Regions from separate parts of the Homo sapiens genome. Here region 1 is linked to region 2. A link means that fine-mapping ties the variant in region 2 to the expression of a gene that starts in the linked region. Tissue or cell type: sun-exposed skin. Region 2 holds a variant in brackets; the other region holds the start of a gene. All regions are shown on one strand. Distances are between the middles of the regions.

What was found. PIP is the estimated chance that this variant, and not a neighbour inherited with it, causes the effect.
Region 1: it holds the start of ZNF783, and the variant in region 2 is fine-mapped to the expression of ZNF783 in sun-exposed skin (GTEx, PIP 0.98).

What each region holds. Positions count from the first base shown.
Region 1 is chr7:149,258,985-149,267,082 of GRCh38, reverse strand. It overlaps ZNF783 (zinc finger protein 783), which reads right to left and starts at 4,887. Exons shown (of 6, transcript NM_001195220.2): 1 at 4,726-4,887; 2 at 353-748; 3 at 138-264. The coding sequence starts at 4,749. LOC124901769 (a long non-coding RNA gene) reads left to right here and starts at 4,742. Exons shown (of 2, transcript XR_007060582.1): 1 at 4,742-5,436. RefSeq lists a silencer at 4,420-5,289.
Region 2 is chr7:149,216,780-149,224,867 of GRCh38, reverse strand. It overlaps ZNF282 (zinc finger protein 282), which reads right to left. Exons shown (of 8, transcript NM_003575.4): 8 at 1-1,056. The coding sequence ends at 221. Among named protein-coding and RNA genes, the nearest start is that of ZNF212, 19 kb to the left of the region's middle. RefSeq lists an enhancer at 4,041-5,030. The variant G/A (reference allele first, on the strand shown) is at 3,584.

The DNA of each region.
Region 1 (8,098 bases), 42 kb before region 2:
AGAAATGAGGAAGAGCTGGACCCCACATGCCCACAGAGATGCAGAGATGCCCAAAGTACCAAAAGCCAAAGCAAAGACACAGACTGTCCACAGACAACCTGTGGACAGAGGCCCAGATCCTCCCTCCGTGGCCTTACCCAGGGAGACCAGCGTCTCGTAGTTGCCCCTCATCACGTGCTTGTAGAGCTCCTTCTGCCAGTCCTCCAGCTTGCCCCACTCCAGCTCAGAGAAATACACGGCCACATCATCGAAGGTCACGGGCACCTGGAACCATAAGTGTCGCACTCACTCACCCACACGCTCACAGGCTCAGCCCCTCGAGCTCCCCCACCCCAGGGTGTCCCGGTGCTACCTTGGGGGCCTCCCCCTTGCTGCCCGGGGGCAGCCGCAAGATCCAGAAGTTCCTGTTGCGCAGCAAGTTCTCCACATTCTCCAGCCGCCTCTGCAGCAGCCCGTACTCCTGCAGCAAGGTCCCCAGCACGGCCCACTTGCCCTCCAGCTGGTTCCCGAACTCCACAGCTGTCTTCTCGCAGTCGGCCAGCTTCTTCTCGGCTGTCCCCGTGCGCCCCTCCAGAGTCAGCAAGCGGGTCAGGCAGGAATCCACCTTCTTCTCCAAGGCCTGAATGGCGGCCACCACCGTCCACAGTGTGATTTCCGTGGAGTAGAGGTACGAGTTCTTCTCAGCAGCTGGCTGGGGCAAGGGTGTCGAAGGACTCTGGTCCTCTGTGTGCTTGTCTGTCTCGGGGTCCTGCTCACAAGAAGAGAAAAGAGAGATGTTATGAGAATTATACAATCAAAACTTCCACCTCAAAAACACACTTCGGAAATGACACCTGCCATGGTAAAGTCCCATCTGGGCTCCTGAGTTAGCAGCAGACTGGGGGGGAGAGGGAGAGGCTAGGGTATCAGTTAGGAATCCAGCCTAACTGATACAAGAGATAGTGGCTGGACCAACGTGTCAGCAAGTGGGAAAGTGGAAGAAAAACAGCCCCGGCTCCTGTCCTACAGGCTAGCTATGGAGACGGGGCATGCCCCACAGGCTTGAGCAACCACGTGCAGTCTCAAACAAGTGACTCCCCTTCTTGGGTCTCAGTTTCCTCTTCTAAAAATGAAAGGACAAGGCTTTGTGGCACAGAGAACATGACTCCCCAGTGGACAGCCCAGGTGCAACTCAGCTCTGCCACTTACAAGCTGGCCAACTGTGGGCAAGGTGTTTTCAACAGCTTCCAACTTCCCTTCCCTATCTAGAAAATGGAGATAATAATAGTACCTATACAATAGCACTGAGAGAATTAAGAAAAATCTGTGTACAAAGCACTTAGTACAATGTGTAGCACAGCACAGATAATAAACATGAGCCCCATGTTGCAGGGCTAAGATGACACTGACTGCTATGGAATGAATGCTTGTGTCTCCCTCAATATCCATCTGCTGAAGCATTAATCCCCAATATGCCGGTATTTGGAGGTGGAGCTTCTGGGAGGCAATTAGGCCATGAAGGCAGAGCCCTCATAAATAGGATTAGCGCCCTTGTAAGAGGAGACACAAGGGAGATGATCTTGCTGTATGCCACGTGAGGATACAATGAGAAGGCAGCCGTCTGCAAACCAGGAAAAGAGCCCTGCCGGGAACCAAGGCAGCCTGAGCAGACTGAGACAATGACAGTGATTATGGTGATGGTTCCAGCTCAGGGATATGGTATAAATAGTTCATATGGCCTTTTTTTTAACCTCCACCTCTTTTATTCCATTGTCCTTCAGTGCCTTGGAAAAAGCTTCTCAAGTGCCTCAGCTTACCCTGGTATCTGATTCACAAGCCCTCATTGTGCATGCGCAATGGGCACAGTCCTGGTTGGTGCTGCTAAAAGCCTTGTTGGAGAGACAAATCAACATCTCACTCCTCAATTTCATTCATCCTTCATGGTTAAATCACCATCAGGTCCTAACTTCCAAAATTACCTCAAATCCATCCATGTTTCTCCTTCTCCACTGCCAGTGTCTAGTCCAAGTTCCCATCACCTTGCTTGGCCTGGGCCACTGCGGTCCTGCCCACCTGATTTCCCCACTTCCAGCCTTCTCCCCCACTTCCAGCCTTCTCCCCCACTTCCAGCCTTCTCCCCCACTTCCAGCCTTCTCCCCTACTTCCAGGCTTCTCCCCGACAATACACTTTCCACAGAGTAATTGTTAATCTTTTTTTTTTTTTTTTTTTTGAGACGGAGTCTTGCTCTGTCGCCCAGGCTGGGGTACAGTGGCGCAATCTCGGCTCACTGCAACCTCCACCTCCCAAGTTCAAGCGATTCTCCTGCCTCAGCCTCCCAAGTAGCTGGGACTACAGACGCCCGCCACCACACCCAGCTGATTTTTATATTTTCAGTAGAGACAGGCTTTCACCATATTGGCCAGGCTGGTCTCAAACTCCTGACCTTGTGATCCGCCCGCCTCAGCCTCCCAAAGTGCTGGGATTACAGGCGTGAGTCAGTGAGCCACTGCTCCCGGCCTGGTAATCTTTTAAAAACACAAATAGATCATTTCAGTACCCTGCTTAAAACTCTTCAATAGCTTCCCAGTGTACCTGGCATAAGATCTAGACTTCTTCATGGCCCAGCCGACCTCTCTTGACCTTGAGCCATCCAGTTCCTGTCGTGCTCCAGCCATGCCAGCCTCCTGTGGATTCCGAGGACCCACCCGGCCCTCCTCCAACTTCACATCAGCTCTCAATATGCATCCTCTGTATGCCTGAGTCTCTCTCGTTTTTAAGATTCTAGCATAGACAACGCATCCTAGAGATTTTCACTGCCCCTCCCCCTTAGCACTAGTAATCTATAATTGCTTCATTCATTCAATAACAATTACTGAACACCTATCATAGTAAATGTACAGTGAAGATGAAGAAAAAACTGATGTGGTTCTTCCTTCTCCAGGAGAAAAATTCTGTATAGGAATACTTATAAACAACAACAGTGTGATAGGATGGGCTAACAAGAGTCCAGGGCAAATCTGTCCCTTTTGGGGAGTTTTTTGGGATCTCAAGTGCTGCAAGAAGGGAGGAGCAGGTGGACAGGAGTGATCTGAAAGGTAGTGAAGCAGTGAGCCCCAGGCTAGGGGGAGTGGATGATGTCACCTTCTAGGGCCCCCTCTTCCCAGGGAACAGGACTATAAACCTGCAGAATCCTCAACGCTTTTTCTCTCCCTTGCACTCAGGGAACCCAAAAAGAAGCTCAGCACACTCACTAAGAGGAGGGAGAGGAAGTTATACTTTAATAAAAGTATCCAGAAAAATCAAGGTTTCAAAACCTTCACTGAGGTGTATTAATAATAGTAGGTATCATCTATTGAGCCTTTACAAGCGTTTTCCAGTATGTCAAAAATGGCCAAAGGATTATAATCTCCCAATTGGACATACTGCACTATATCAAACCAAGATTCTAAAATCTGCTAAACTGGCCTAACTTATATAGATGAAGATGCCAAAAAAACTGATGTGATTCTTCCTTCTCCAGGAGAAAAATTCTGTATAGGAATACTTATAGTGTATTCTTATGAATAAACTTATTCATATAGATATGTATCTGGACAGATAGATAGATAGATATAAATGAGACAGGCACCTGCGCCTGTAATCCCAGCTACTTGGGATTGGGAGGCTGAGGCAGGAGAATACCTTGAACCCGGGAGGCAGAGGCAGAGGTTGCAGTGAGATGAGATCCCGCCACTACACTCCACCCTGGGTGAGAGTGAGACTGTGTCTAAAAAAAAAATATATATATATATATATATACACACACACACACACACACACACACACACACACACACACGTATATATATATACTTTTTTAATTAAAAAATTTTAAAATGGCCGGGCGCGGTAGCTCTCGTCTGTAATCCCAGCACTTTGGGAGGCCGGGGCGGGCAGATCACGAGGTCAGGGGTTCGAGACCAGCCTGGCCAACATAGTGAAACCCAGTCTCTACCAAAAATAGAAAAATTAGCCAGGCGTGGTAGCAGGCGCCTGTAGTCCCAGCTACTTGGGAGGCTGAGGCAGGAGAATCCCTTGAAGCCGGGAGGCGGAGCTTGCAGTGAGCCGAGATCGTGCCACTGCACTCCATCCAGCATGCGCAACAGAGCGAGACTCCCTCTCAAAAAAAAAAATTAAATAAAATCTGCTACAGTAATCTTTTTTAAAAAAATCTACTATCTCTCTTGTAAACGACACAATCTTTCTCTTTGGCAAAAGTAGAATATGAGGCGTTTTAAAGTGTCTAATTCCAAAATCCCTGCCCCGGCGTGAGGCTCCCGCCTCTAATAGATGCGTGACCCTGGGCCTGTCCCTTCCCATCTCAGCCTCCGCTACTGTCCCGTGGGGCTGGCGGCCCCTGCCCGCCCAGCCTGCTGTAGGGGGGGCCGCGAGGCCTCAAATGGGACAATACTCCTAAGGCGCGGCCTCCTCGTCGCCGAGCGTGACTCTGGGGCCCGGCCTGGCTGAGGCCGCAGATGGGCCGGATCGTCAGCCGCTGACGTCGGGGCCCCGCCCGCCGGGCCTGGCATTTGGGCCGCCCGGTCAATGCCTTCGACGCGGGCTGGGCGATGGGCCGGGGGCAACGAGCGCGGAGGCTGCGCGCAAGGCCCTCTCACCCCGCGGCCTCGCGCGGCCAGAGTCCCTCGCGCGGGCTCACGCGGCGGCGGCCTGGGCCTTCCGGGCGTCCGCGGGGCCGAGGGCGCTTACCCGGGCAGGCGCCGCTTCGGCCATGGCTGCCCGCGTCCCTCGCTGGGTTGCAGTCCCTGGACCCGGCCTGTCGGGCCCGGGGCGGCGCGGCAGCGACGGCGGAAGCGGAGCGGGACCCGCCTAACCTGAGAGCTACTGCCGGGCGGCAGCGAACTGCGTCCCGAGCCACGTGCCCCGCTGGCCCTTTAAAAAAGAGCTGCGCTCGGCGGCCGAGCTTGAGGACGCGCACAGCGCCCCCTGCAGCCCGTAGGACCGCACGCCCGCGGCCGCCGCCCCGCGCCCTCCCGAGGCCTTCAGCGCCCGCGGCGTCCGGGACCCAGGCGCGGCCACCCACCCTCACCCGGGGCGCGGGAGTTGACGCCAGGGCGGGCGTGCCACGGCCTCCAGCGGGGCTACGTCAGGCGTAAGCCACTCCCGGGCCAGCGCGGCGCCCAACCTCTCTCTGCGTCCCACGCGGGAGCCGGGAGGGCTGCGGGAAGGAACCGCGCTGGAAAGTGCGAAACCTCGCGAGGGAAAGCTGCGTGGGGAACGGGGTCGGCCCTCGCCGGGGCTCCAGTCCGGACCGAGACTCTGTTGCAGCGCCTCCCACGCACCACAGAACTGAGTTGGGGAAAGTAAAAAGGATACGTGTGTACCCAGGGAGAAGCCAGGGAAACTTACATGAACGTTTTTAAAGTCTCTTTTAAATTTGACAGAACAAACGTGAAGATGGTAGGATTTTTTTTTTTTTTTTCCTAAGCCTGCCCTCCCCTCCTGAGGACTCTGGGGTCCCTTCCTCCTCCCGGGGCCCGCCTGGTGAAAGTCCTCAGCCACCCACGAGGACCCTTCTGTAGCTTTGGTCCAGGCTGAGATCACAGCAAGTGTGAATCAGTCCATCCCTCATTTAGGCCCTGAGGCATCTTGAATAAACCGCAGGACCCATTTTCCTCGGCCTGTGCTGAGGCATATTGAACTAAATGTGCTGTATGCAGTTGAAGCTTTGTTTTCTGTCTTTTCTGCATTTCCCATTCATCTCACAGTCTTTGTCCAACAAGCTGGCAAACTCTTCCCGCTAGAAATCTGCAGTTTTGTTTCTTTCTGTGTTTGGGTTTGTTTGGGGTTTTTTGGTTTTGGTTTTGTTTTTTCTTTTTTGGGGGGGGGGGGTGAGGGTGAGAAGTTATTTTCACAAATATTTGAGCCAAGCAAAAGCGTGGTCAACTATCAGAAAAAACACAAACTGATATCCTAAGTAAGGTGAACCCCAAAATTTGCGGAAAGGTTAGGACGTGTTACTTTAAGGTAACAAATCAAATAAATATTTGGCATTATTCATTTTGGAAATTCTTGTTGAACTATCCCAATCTAAAACACAAACTGCAAGTATGCACTAAAGACATTAAGAGCATCCCTAGGATCTTATCAGGGATCAGTCCAATCTATTCAGGATTATAAAATACCAGTAAATGGTGACGTTATAGAATAACAGTTAAGGTCCAATGCAAACAGAAAGGGTCAGGAAAATGGGCCAGGAGCCGTGGCTCATGCCTGTAATCCCAGCAGTTTGGGAGGCTGAGGCGGATGGATCACCTGAGGTCAGGAGTTCGAGACCAGCCTGGCCAACATGATGAAACCCCATCTCTACTAATACAAAAAATTAGCTGGGTGTGGTGGTGAGGTACTCTGGAGGCTGAGGCAGGATAATCGCTTGAACCCGGGAAGCAGAGGTTGCAGTAAGCCGAGATCATGCCATTGCACTCCAGCCTGGGCAACAAGAGCAAAACCCCATCTCAAAAAAAAAAAAAAAGAAAAAGAAAGAAAGAAAGGGTCAGGAAAATGGGCTGGAGACAAAAATGCTAGGATTTAATGAGCTCTGTTGAGGAAAGAGTGCTATAATGTTTGACAGCTAGTCTTCGTTTTTTAGAAAAAAAGTTTCTCTAAGTCAGTGGTACTCAAACTTCAGTGTGCATCATGTTCACTGAGGGTTCTTGTTAAAAATACAGGATGCTAGGCACAAACCTCAACATTTCTAGGTCTGAAACAGGAGGGGATGAAAGTGATGCGAATTTGCAATTCTAACTAGTTCCCAAGAAATGCTGATTCTATTGGTCTGGTGATCACAGTTCGAAAACCTTGGCACTGTTTATCAGGGTCCCACAGCTACCTCCCATTCCCATGCTCAGATTTTATAAATATATTTAATAAACGAACACTTTGCACCATAATGTGGTTTCTGAGCAGACCAGCCGGGGTGTCAAGCCAGCTCTGATATAAATTAAAATTACATGGTGGCTTTTTTTTTTTAAGACGGAGTTTCGCTCTTGTTGCCCAAGATGAAGTGCAATGGCACGATCTCGGCTCACTGCAACCTCCACCTCCCAGGTTCAAGAGATTCTCCTGCCTCAGCCTCCCGAGTAGCTGGGATTACAGGTTCCTGCCACCATGCCAGGCTAATTTTTAGTATTTTTAGTAGAGACGGGGTTTCACCATGTTGGCCAGGCTGGTCTCAAACTCCTGACCTCAGGAGATCCACCCACCTCGGCCTCCAAAAGTGCCGGGATTACAGGCATCAGCCACCACGCTCAGCCTACATTCATCTTTAATTGTTAATCTGTCTCTTGTGAGTTTGTTTTTTGGGGGATCAGATTTCCAGGACCTGATTATCTCTGGGTGAACTGACAACATCCAGTGGAGGCCCAGTCCGTGGAGTAACAAGGGTGACTCCACCTGCAGAAGGTAGGGTTGTCACAATTTGAGGGCCACCAAAGTAGTACCCAGGGTCACTCAACAAGAGGTCAGCACACTCAAGTGCCATTGTCCCCACCAGAACATCCTCAGCCAAGAGATAGTGGCAGGTCAGAGACAGAATTCCTGTGGCTCCCTCATCCTCCAAGCCAGGAATGTAATTTAGATTAGGAGGTGGACCCACACAGAATTATAAAGATGTTAGGAACGGAAGCATTAGTAGAGGGAGACCAGAAGTACAGCCAAATCCCACTTCCTCCATAGAAGCCTTCTCTATTTCAGACAACACCCAGCTCTCTATTCTGTGAACACCCATTATACTTTCTCATTCAGCAAACATTTGCTGAGCACCTATGTGCCAAGCACCTGTGCTGAGAGCTGTGGAGGCTGATAGGAGTAAGACATGGTCCCTCCTGAGGCCAGGCGCGGTGGCTCACGCCTGTAATCCCAGCACTTTGGGAGGCCGAGGCGGGCGGATCACGAGCTCAGGAGATCAAGACCATCCTGGCTAACACGATGAAACCCCGTCTCTACTAAAAATACAAAAAATTAGCCGGGCGTGGTGGTAGGCGCCTGTAGTCCCAGCTACTTGGGAGGCTGAGGCAGGAGAATGGCCTGAACCCAGGAGGCGGAGCTTGCAGTGAGCTGAGAT
Region 2 (8,088 bases):
CTGGCTCTTCCCCAGCAGCTGGGTCCACCCTAGATGAGCTGGGCGTCCATTCAGACCAGACAGATCTGGGGGATCCCTGCCCCACCCTGGGGGACCCCCAACCGGAGTGCAATGCCTGTTGCCGATTTCCAGACGGTGGCTGAGGACACCCGGCAAGGTGGTTGGTGCTCAGGCCGCCCCCGATCCACTCCGTCCGGCCCTGCCCTCCCCCAGCCCAGCCCTAGTCTCGCTCAGGAGGCGGCGGGAGCTGCCGTGGGGCGCCGGGGCCCGGGCCGCCGCTGTGCACGCGCAGGTGGTCCTTGAGCGACTCCTTGTAGCGGAAGCTCTTGCCGCACTCGCCGCACGTGTAGGGGCGCTCGCCCGTGTGGATGCGCTGGTGCTTGAGCAGGTTCTGCTTGCGGATGAAGCTCTTGCCGCACAGTGCACATTGGAAAGGCCGCTCGCCCGTGTGCAGCCGCTGGTGGTTCTGCAGGTGCTCCTTACGGCTGTAGGTCTTCTCGCACTCCGAGCACTTGTAGGGCCGCTCGCCGCGGTGCGTCATCTGGTGGCGGATGAGGCCCGAGTGGCAGTTGAAGCTCTTCTCGCACTCAGCGCACTCGTAGGGCCGCTCCTTGGTGTGGCTGCGGTGGTGGATGATGAGGCTCTTGCGCACGCCGAAGCTCTTGCCGCACTCGGGGCACGAGTAGGGCTTGCTGCGGGCGCCGTGCAGGAGGAGGCTCCGCCGCAGCCCGCCAGGGCAGCAGCTGCCACAGCCGCCGCCTGCCCCCGTCCCCGCCTCCGCGCCGCCGCCCCCACCGCCCCCATCGCCCCCGCCGCCCCCGGTGCTGCGGTCCCCACCCGGCGGCGCCTCGCCGGAGCCACGCTCCCCGGGCAGCACCTGGAAACCGTCGTCCAGCAGCCCTCGGCTCGGGGGGCCGCCCGGGTTCTCGGCCACCGCGATGGGGGGCAGGCTCTGGGGCTGGGGCTGCGACTGCAGCTGCGGCTGCGGTGGCTGGGGCTGGGGCTGGGGCTGTGGCGGGGCCGGGGGTGGGTTCTTCACCATCAGCAGGCTGTCACCTGGGGAGATAGGAAGAAGTGACATGCTGACAGGGGTTCTCGGCCAGGACCCCACACTGCTCCCGAAGGGGGGCCCAGGGAGCATGCTATCTGAGCCTCAGTTCCACTAACTACGAGGGATTGCACAAGGTGCTGGGCCACGATCTACGTGGCCCTTCGACCTGTTCGAAGCCACCCTGCTGTGGAGCCCAGAAACGGGTCAAGCAGGTGGCACGCAGCAAGGACAGGAAGTCCCTCCAGAACGCTGAGGGCTAAGGGGTAGGGGACCTGCTGTCCAGAAGTCATTTTGGAAGGCAGAATTTCCCAGAAACAACAAGACTTACTTGCAGTCTGATGGACAATGTTTTTTGTTTGTTTGTTTTTCCAGACAGGGTCTGGCTCTGTCTCCCAGGCTGTAGTGCACTGGTGAGATCATGGCTCACTGCAGCCTTGACTTCCTGGGCTCAAGTGATCCTCCCACCTCAGCCTGCCAAGTAGCTGGGACCATAAGCATGCGCCACCAGGCCCAGCTAATTAAAAAAAAAAAACAAATCTTTTCGGCCGGTCGCAGTGGCTCACGCCTGTAATCCCAGCATTTTGGGAGACCGAGGTGGGCGGATCACCTTAGTTCAGGAGTTGGAGACCAGCCTGACCAACATGGAAAAACCCCGTCTCTACTAAAAATACAAAATTAGCCGGGAGTGGTGGCCCATGCATGTAATCCCAGCTACTCAGGAGGCTGAGGCAGGAGAATCACTTGAACCGGGGAGGCAGAGGTTGCAGTGAGCTGAGATCTTGCCATTGCACTGGCCCAGGCATCCAGCCTGGGCAACAAGAGCGAAACTCTGTCTCTCAAAAAAGTAAATAAATAAAATACAATTTAAAAAGGCCAGGCGCAGTGGCTCACGCCTGTAATCCCAGCACTATGGGAGGCCGAGGTGGGTGGATCACGAGGTCAAGAGATCGAGACCATCCTGCCCAACATAGTGAAACCCCATCTCTACTAAAAATACGAAAATTAGCTGGGCATGGTGGCACGCACCTGTAGTCCCAGCTACTTGGGAGGCTGAGGCAGGAGAATCACTTGAACCTGGGAGGCGGAGGTTGCAGTGAGCTGAGATCCTGCCACTGCACTCCAGCCTGGCGACAGAGCGAGACTCTGACTCAAAAAATAAATAAATAAAAATAAAAAATAAAAAATAAATTTTTGTTGAGACAGGGTCTCACTATGTTGCCCAGGCTGGTCTCCAACTCCTGGGATCAAGCAATCCTCCCACCTTGGCCTCCCAAAGTGCTGGGATTACAGATGTGAGCCAGCACACACACTGACAATGCTCACTTTTATCTCAGGACAGTCTCTCAATAGGAAGAAAAGAATTTTATCCAAGGTGAAAACCATCTAGAGGCCCACAGGAATGGAATGCAGGGAGCTGGAAACATAAGCATCAGATGGGTTGGCAGTCATGTTTCCACTAAGCATGTGGGGCATCTGACTTGGGCAGGTGTGGGCAGCTGGGACATGTGAGTCCCACCCTGGCACCTGACCCACCTGGACCTTGGCAGCACCATAACAGGCCCTCCTTGCACTCGTGGCAGTGGCCACCCAACCTACCACCCCAGGAAATGCGGTTCTTGCCCCCTTTCCTCCAAGTGCACAGTTCTCCACCACCTTGGGGGGCAGTGGGAGACAAAGCCCAGGCTCTGAGCATCAGAATGGTGACGTCAGGCCCAGTCCTTCCCCCTCCCACCCACCCTGTCCCCCAGCCCAGTGGTTCTCATGCCTCACGCTCCATCACCTCCCTGGTCTTCAGTTTGAATTCCTTTCTCCCTAGAGGAGTCCTGCTCCCCAATTTAGGGGAAGCCTGTGGAAGAGCTCTGAAGAAAGAGACGGCCTCCCACCTCTTCTCAGCATCCTTTTCTCCGTGCTCACACCCCTCTGCCTAGGACCCAACTGCTCCCCGGAGGCCACTTCCCAGGCCACATCTGCCATGTTTCCACCCAGCCCTCCTATATTCGTTGGTGTTTGACTGAGGTCTGTCCTTATATGATACTCTTAAATAGACTGGGCCTGCCCTCCCTCTCTGTCTCAATCAAAATTGGCCTGGCAGAGAACCATCTCTGCAGGACACTGGCCAGGTGCAGAGGCCAAAAGAATTCTCTTCACATCAGTGCAGGATGCCTGGGAAGGGTCATCCCAGCTCCAGAGAATCCCGGGAGATCGCTGTGGCCTCTGTGGCCACGGCACTGAGGGTGTTTGCTTCTCTGTCTACCCAGTCCTGCTACTCTCACTCCTTCCCAGGTGTTATTCCCAGAGGACTTGCAAAGAAACTATATGCACATAAACTCCCAGGGGCTGTCTCCCGGGAAGCCCACCTAAGGCAGTCCTACTCTGACCGTCTTCCAACCCAGTGTGAACCTCAATCCACGTTCTCACCATCCCGCTATGCCCTCCACCTCCAACCTTTTTCTGCCTTCCTGACCCAACTTGGCTCTCCAGGCCCGGCAGCCCAGGCACTTGCAAGGGCACGGTGATTGCCTTTGCTCCGCC[G/A]TTGTGCTTGCCTGGAGAACTCCAGTCCTGTGACTGCACTCAGGCAGCTGAAAAACTGCACAAGCTGGCCAGGCACTGTGGCTCATGCCTGTAATCCCGGCACATTGGGAGGCCAAGGCAGAAGGATTGCTTGAGCCCAGGAGTTTGAGACCAGCCTAGGCAACCTAGGGAGACCCCATCTCTACAAAAAAACATTTAAAAATTAGGTACTGTGACACACGCCTGTGGTCCCAGCTACTCAGAAGACTGATGCGAGAGGATTATTTAAACCTGAGAGGTCGAGGCTGCGGTGAGCCGTGATCGCGCCACTGTACTCCAGCCTGGGTGACAGAGTGAAACCTTATCTCAAAAAAAAAAAAAAAAAAAACCCTCCAGGGGCCTCCACACAGCCTGGCATCCTGGCCCACGTCTCTAGTGGGTTTTACTTTTCCACTCTGGAATGATTACGTCATCCTTCCTCCTCTATCCTACGCCCCTCCCCCCCAACCCATGCATGGCCCTGAGGGCTTTTCCTTTCCAGTCACTGGCTGGTAAGTGATTCACATGCAAGCATGTAACCTAGTTATGGTCAGTAGGGTATGGGAAGTTTGCTGGGAGGCTTCTGGAAAGATTTCCTCATTCCTTAGAGTGTGCAGGAAAAGATGGGCTTTCCTGTACACTCATGTCTGGATGCGACGCTTGGGACAGCTGCAGCTGCTGTGCTACCAGCCTGGGGATGAAGCCACACCGAGGATGGTCAGGCAAGGAATTGGAAAGAACCTGGGTCCTTGAAAACATGCTGAGTCTTTGAATCAACTAAGCCTGAACCTGACCTACCTTAGGACTTCCAGTTACGTAAGAGAAGAAATTTCTTTATTCTTTTTTTTTCTTTTGGAGACGGAGTCTGGCTCAGTTGCGCAGGCTGGAGTGCAGTGGCGCGATCTCAGCTCGCTGCAAGCTCCGCCTCCTGGGTTCACGCCATTCTCCTGCCTCAGCCTCCCGAGTAGCTGGGACTACAGGCGCCCACCACGACTACGCCAGGCTAATTTTTTTGTATTTTTAGTAGAGACGGGGTTTCACCGTGTTAGCCAGGATGGTCTCGATCTCCTGACCTCAGGATCCGCCCGTCTCGGCCTCTCAAAGTGCTGGGATTACAGGCGTGAGCCACCGTGCCCGGCTTCTTTATTCTTTAAGGCAGTTTGAATCAGGGTTCTAAAGTAGTTGGGAGCATCTGACCCGAGACAATGGTCTAGTTATCTCCGACCTTAAAAGAACCCCCTCCCTAGGCCCATGTGGCCCGTGCCCCAGCTCCTCACATGTCATTTCTGTTCCTTTTCATAGTAAGACTCATCAAGAGTCACTGCACTTGCCCTTACCACTTCTTCACCTCCCATTCTTTTTAGATGATTCCAATCAGGCATGCACCCTTGCCATTCCACTGAAAAACTTTTTCGTTTTTGAGACCAAGTCTTGCTCTGTTGCCCAGGCTGGAGTGCAGTGACACAATCTCTGCTCACTGCAACCTCCACCTCCCAGGTTCAAGCGATTCTCTTGCCTCAGCCTCCCAAGTAGCTGGGATTACAGATGCCTGCCACCATGCCTGGCTAATTTTTGTATTTTTAGTAGAGACAGGGTCTCTCCATGTTGGCCAGGCTGGTCTCGAACTCCCGACCTCAAATGATCCACCTGCCTCGGCCTCCCAAAGTGCTGAGATTACAGGTGTGAGCCACCACACCCAACCTCCATTGAAAAACTTTTGCCGAGATCACCAACAATATCCAACCTGTCAAATCCCCCAGGCTCTTCCCTGTCCTGCATATGCAACCACTCATGGGTGTCTGACATAGTTAACCCTCCCCAAGAGATTCTCTTCTCCCAGCCTCTGTAACACCTTGCCCCTCTGGTTTTCTGCCATGCTCAGAGCTAAGATCTCTTTAATTCTTTGTTTACACTGTCCCTAGAACTCATATAGTCCTGAACAACCTAAGTGTAATAACTTGACTGGCCTTTGTCCCTGGTTCCTGGGAAGGAGCCTCTAAATCTCTGGATTTCCCGAGTGACAGGGGTGCCTTTGTTATTCATGGTGGGATCTTAGAGAGTTTAAGCTAAGGAGATGACAAAGGATGGGGCTGCCATGCTGAAAAGACCAAGCACGTGACTAAAGGTTTAGGGTTTGAGGCCCAACCTCCAGGGAGGGAAAGGGGCTGGAGACTGAGCTGAACCTCGTGGCTAATGATTCAATCAATCATATCTATATAAAGAAGCCCCAACAGAAACTCGGAACGCCAAAGCTCAGCGAACTTCCCTGGTTGGCAATGCTCTGCATATTTTCACACGTTGACATGCTGGGAGGGTGACACATCCTGACTCCACAGGGAGGGAACAATGGAAATTTCAGGCTTAGGACCATCCCAGACCTAGCCTTATGGATCTCCTTTTGGCTAGCTCTGATTTGAATCCTTTTGCTGTGATAAAACTGTAATGATATATATAGCACTTTCCTGAGTTCTATGAGTCATTCTAGCAAATTATGACGGGGTGATGGGAAGCCCAGAATTTGTAGCCAGCTGGTCAGAAGTGAGGGTGGCCTAGAACCCCCAAATTTGCAGCTGGTGTCTGAAGAGAGAACGGTCCTGTGGAGGCATGAGCCCTCAACCTGTGAGGTTTGGCCAATTACAGGTCGCTGATGTTGGAAGTCACTGCAACCTGTAACTCCCAAATCAGTCTATCCCCAAGCTCTCTCTTGAACTTCAGACTCCTATATTCACCTACTTGATCTGCTACTTGAGTGTCACCTCAAATTTTAATAGGTCCAAACTAGAACTCTTGACTCCAAACTAGAACCAGCAACACAGGTTCTTTTCCAGGGCTTGGCACTTCAGCAAACAGTACTACCATTCACCCACTTCTGTAGGACCCAGACCCAGGAGTCAGTCTTGATTCCACAGCCCCCACAGGCAACCCATGAGTGACACTCTCAAAGTGCATCTGAATCTGTCCTTTCTCTCCCTGTGCACTGCTGCTACCCCAGCTCTGACCACCAGCATCTCTCCACTTGGTCTGCATCAAATGCATGAGCCTCAGACATGGCTCCGCACCCCCCGCCAATCCACTCCTGAAATCCTATAAAAACGTAAACCAGATCATGTCCGATTTCATACCCTTTATTAGTCTCTCTCTCTCTCTTTTTTTTTTTTTTTTCTGAGACAGGGTCTCGCTTTGTTACCCAGGCTGGAGTGCAGTGGCATGATCTCACTGCAACTTTCACCTCCTGGGTTCAAGGGATTCTCATGCCTCAGCCTCCCGAGCAGCTGGGATTACAGGTGCCCGCCATGACACCCGGCCTAGTCTCCTTTCTTGTAAGAATAAAATCCAAACTCTAACTTGGCCCATAGGTCATACATGCTCAGGTGCCTCAGTCTACGGCTCCATCCTCCTCCCCAAAGCCTCCATGGCCCTGCCTTCACTTCCCTCTTCTTGGTCTTCTCTTCCCCCTGCAACCCCACGGCCGGCTCCTTCCCACTGCCAAGGGCACACTCAGTCAGGCACCGCTTCCCCTCGGAGGCCTTTCCTGACCACTCTGTCTTTGCTCTGCCTCATGTCCACACTCCTTCCTGTTCTCCCTGCCATTGTTCTCAGAGCATTGCTGCATCCTGGCTTTACCTTGCCTGCTTGCTGGCCTGCTTATTCATCCTCTTCCCACAAAAGAAAAGGTCTTTCTTCACTCCCAATTTTTTTTTTTGAGACAGAGCCTTACTCTGCCACCCAGGCTGTAGTGCAGGGGCGCAATCTTGGCTCACTGCAACCTCCGCCTCCCGGATTCAAGCAATTCTCCTGCCTTAGCCTCCCAAGTAGCTGGAGTTACAGGTGCCCACCACCACTCCTGGCTAGTTGTTTTTTGTTTGTTTGTTTGTTTGTTTTTTGTATTTTTAGTAGAGACGGAGTTTCACCATGTTGGCCAGGCTGGTCTGGAACTCCTGACCTCAGGTGATCCAACTGCCTTGGCCTCCCAAAGTGCCGGGATTACAGGCCTGAGCTACCACACCTGGCCCTTCACTGCTTATTCTAAGTGCTTACAATACTGTGTAACACATAGCAGGCATTAAGTAAATACCTGCTAAAAAAAATATAAACTATGAAAGGTTGGAACCACTGTTTTAACCCAATGTAGTGAATAATGTGGGAATTTCAAGAGGGTGCTTTCACGTCATATTCTGTGGGTGTTGGCACCTGGGAATGGTGGCCCAGCTTCAGGATCTTTACCACCTCTCACTCCGGAAGCACCTTTTAGCCACTGCACTCCAGAGTCCTAGCTACGCTTCCTGCTTCAGTGGAGGCACTGATGTACATTAACTTTGGGCAAACTGAATCTTCTTCTTGTCTTACACTAACATGCTGAGAGCGAGACTCAGTATACACTCATTAATAAATAAATTCAGGAGTCCCTTTTACAAGAATGTAATATCCAATTGGGTTGAGGTCTGCCTTTGAGTCAAACGGATACCAGTTATTTCCCTCTTACATAT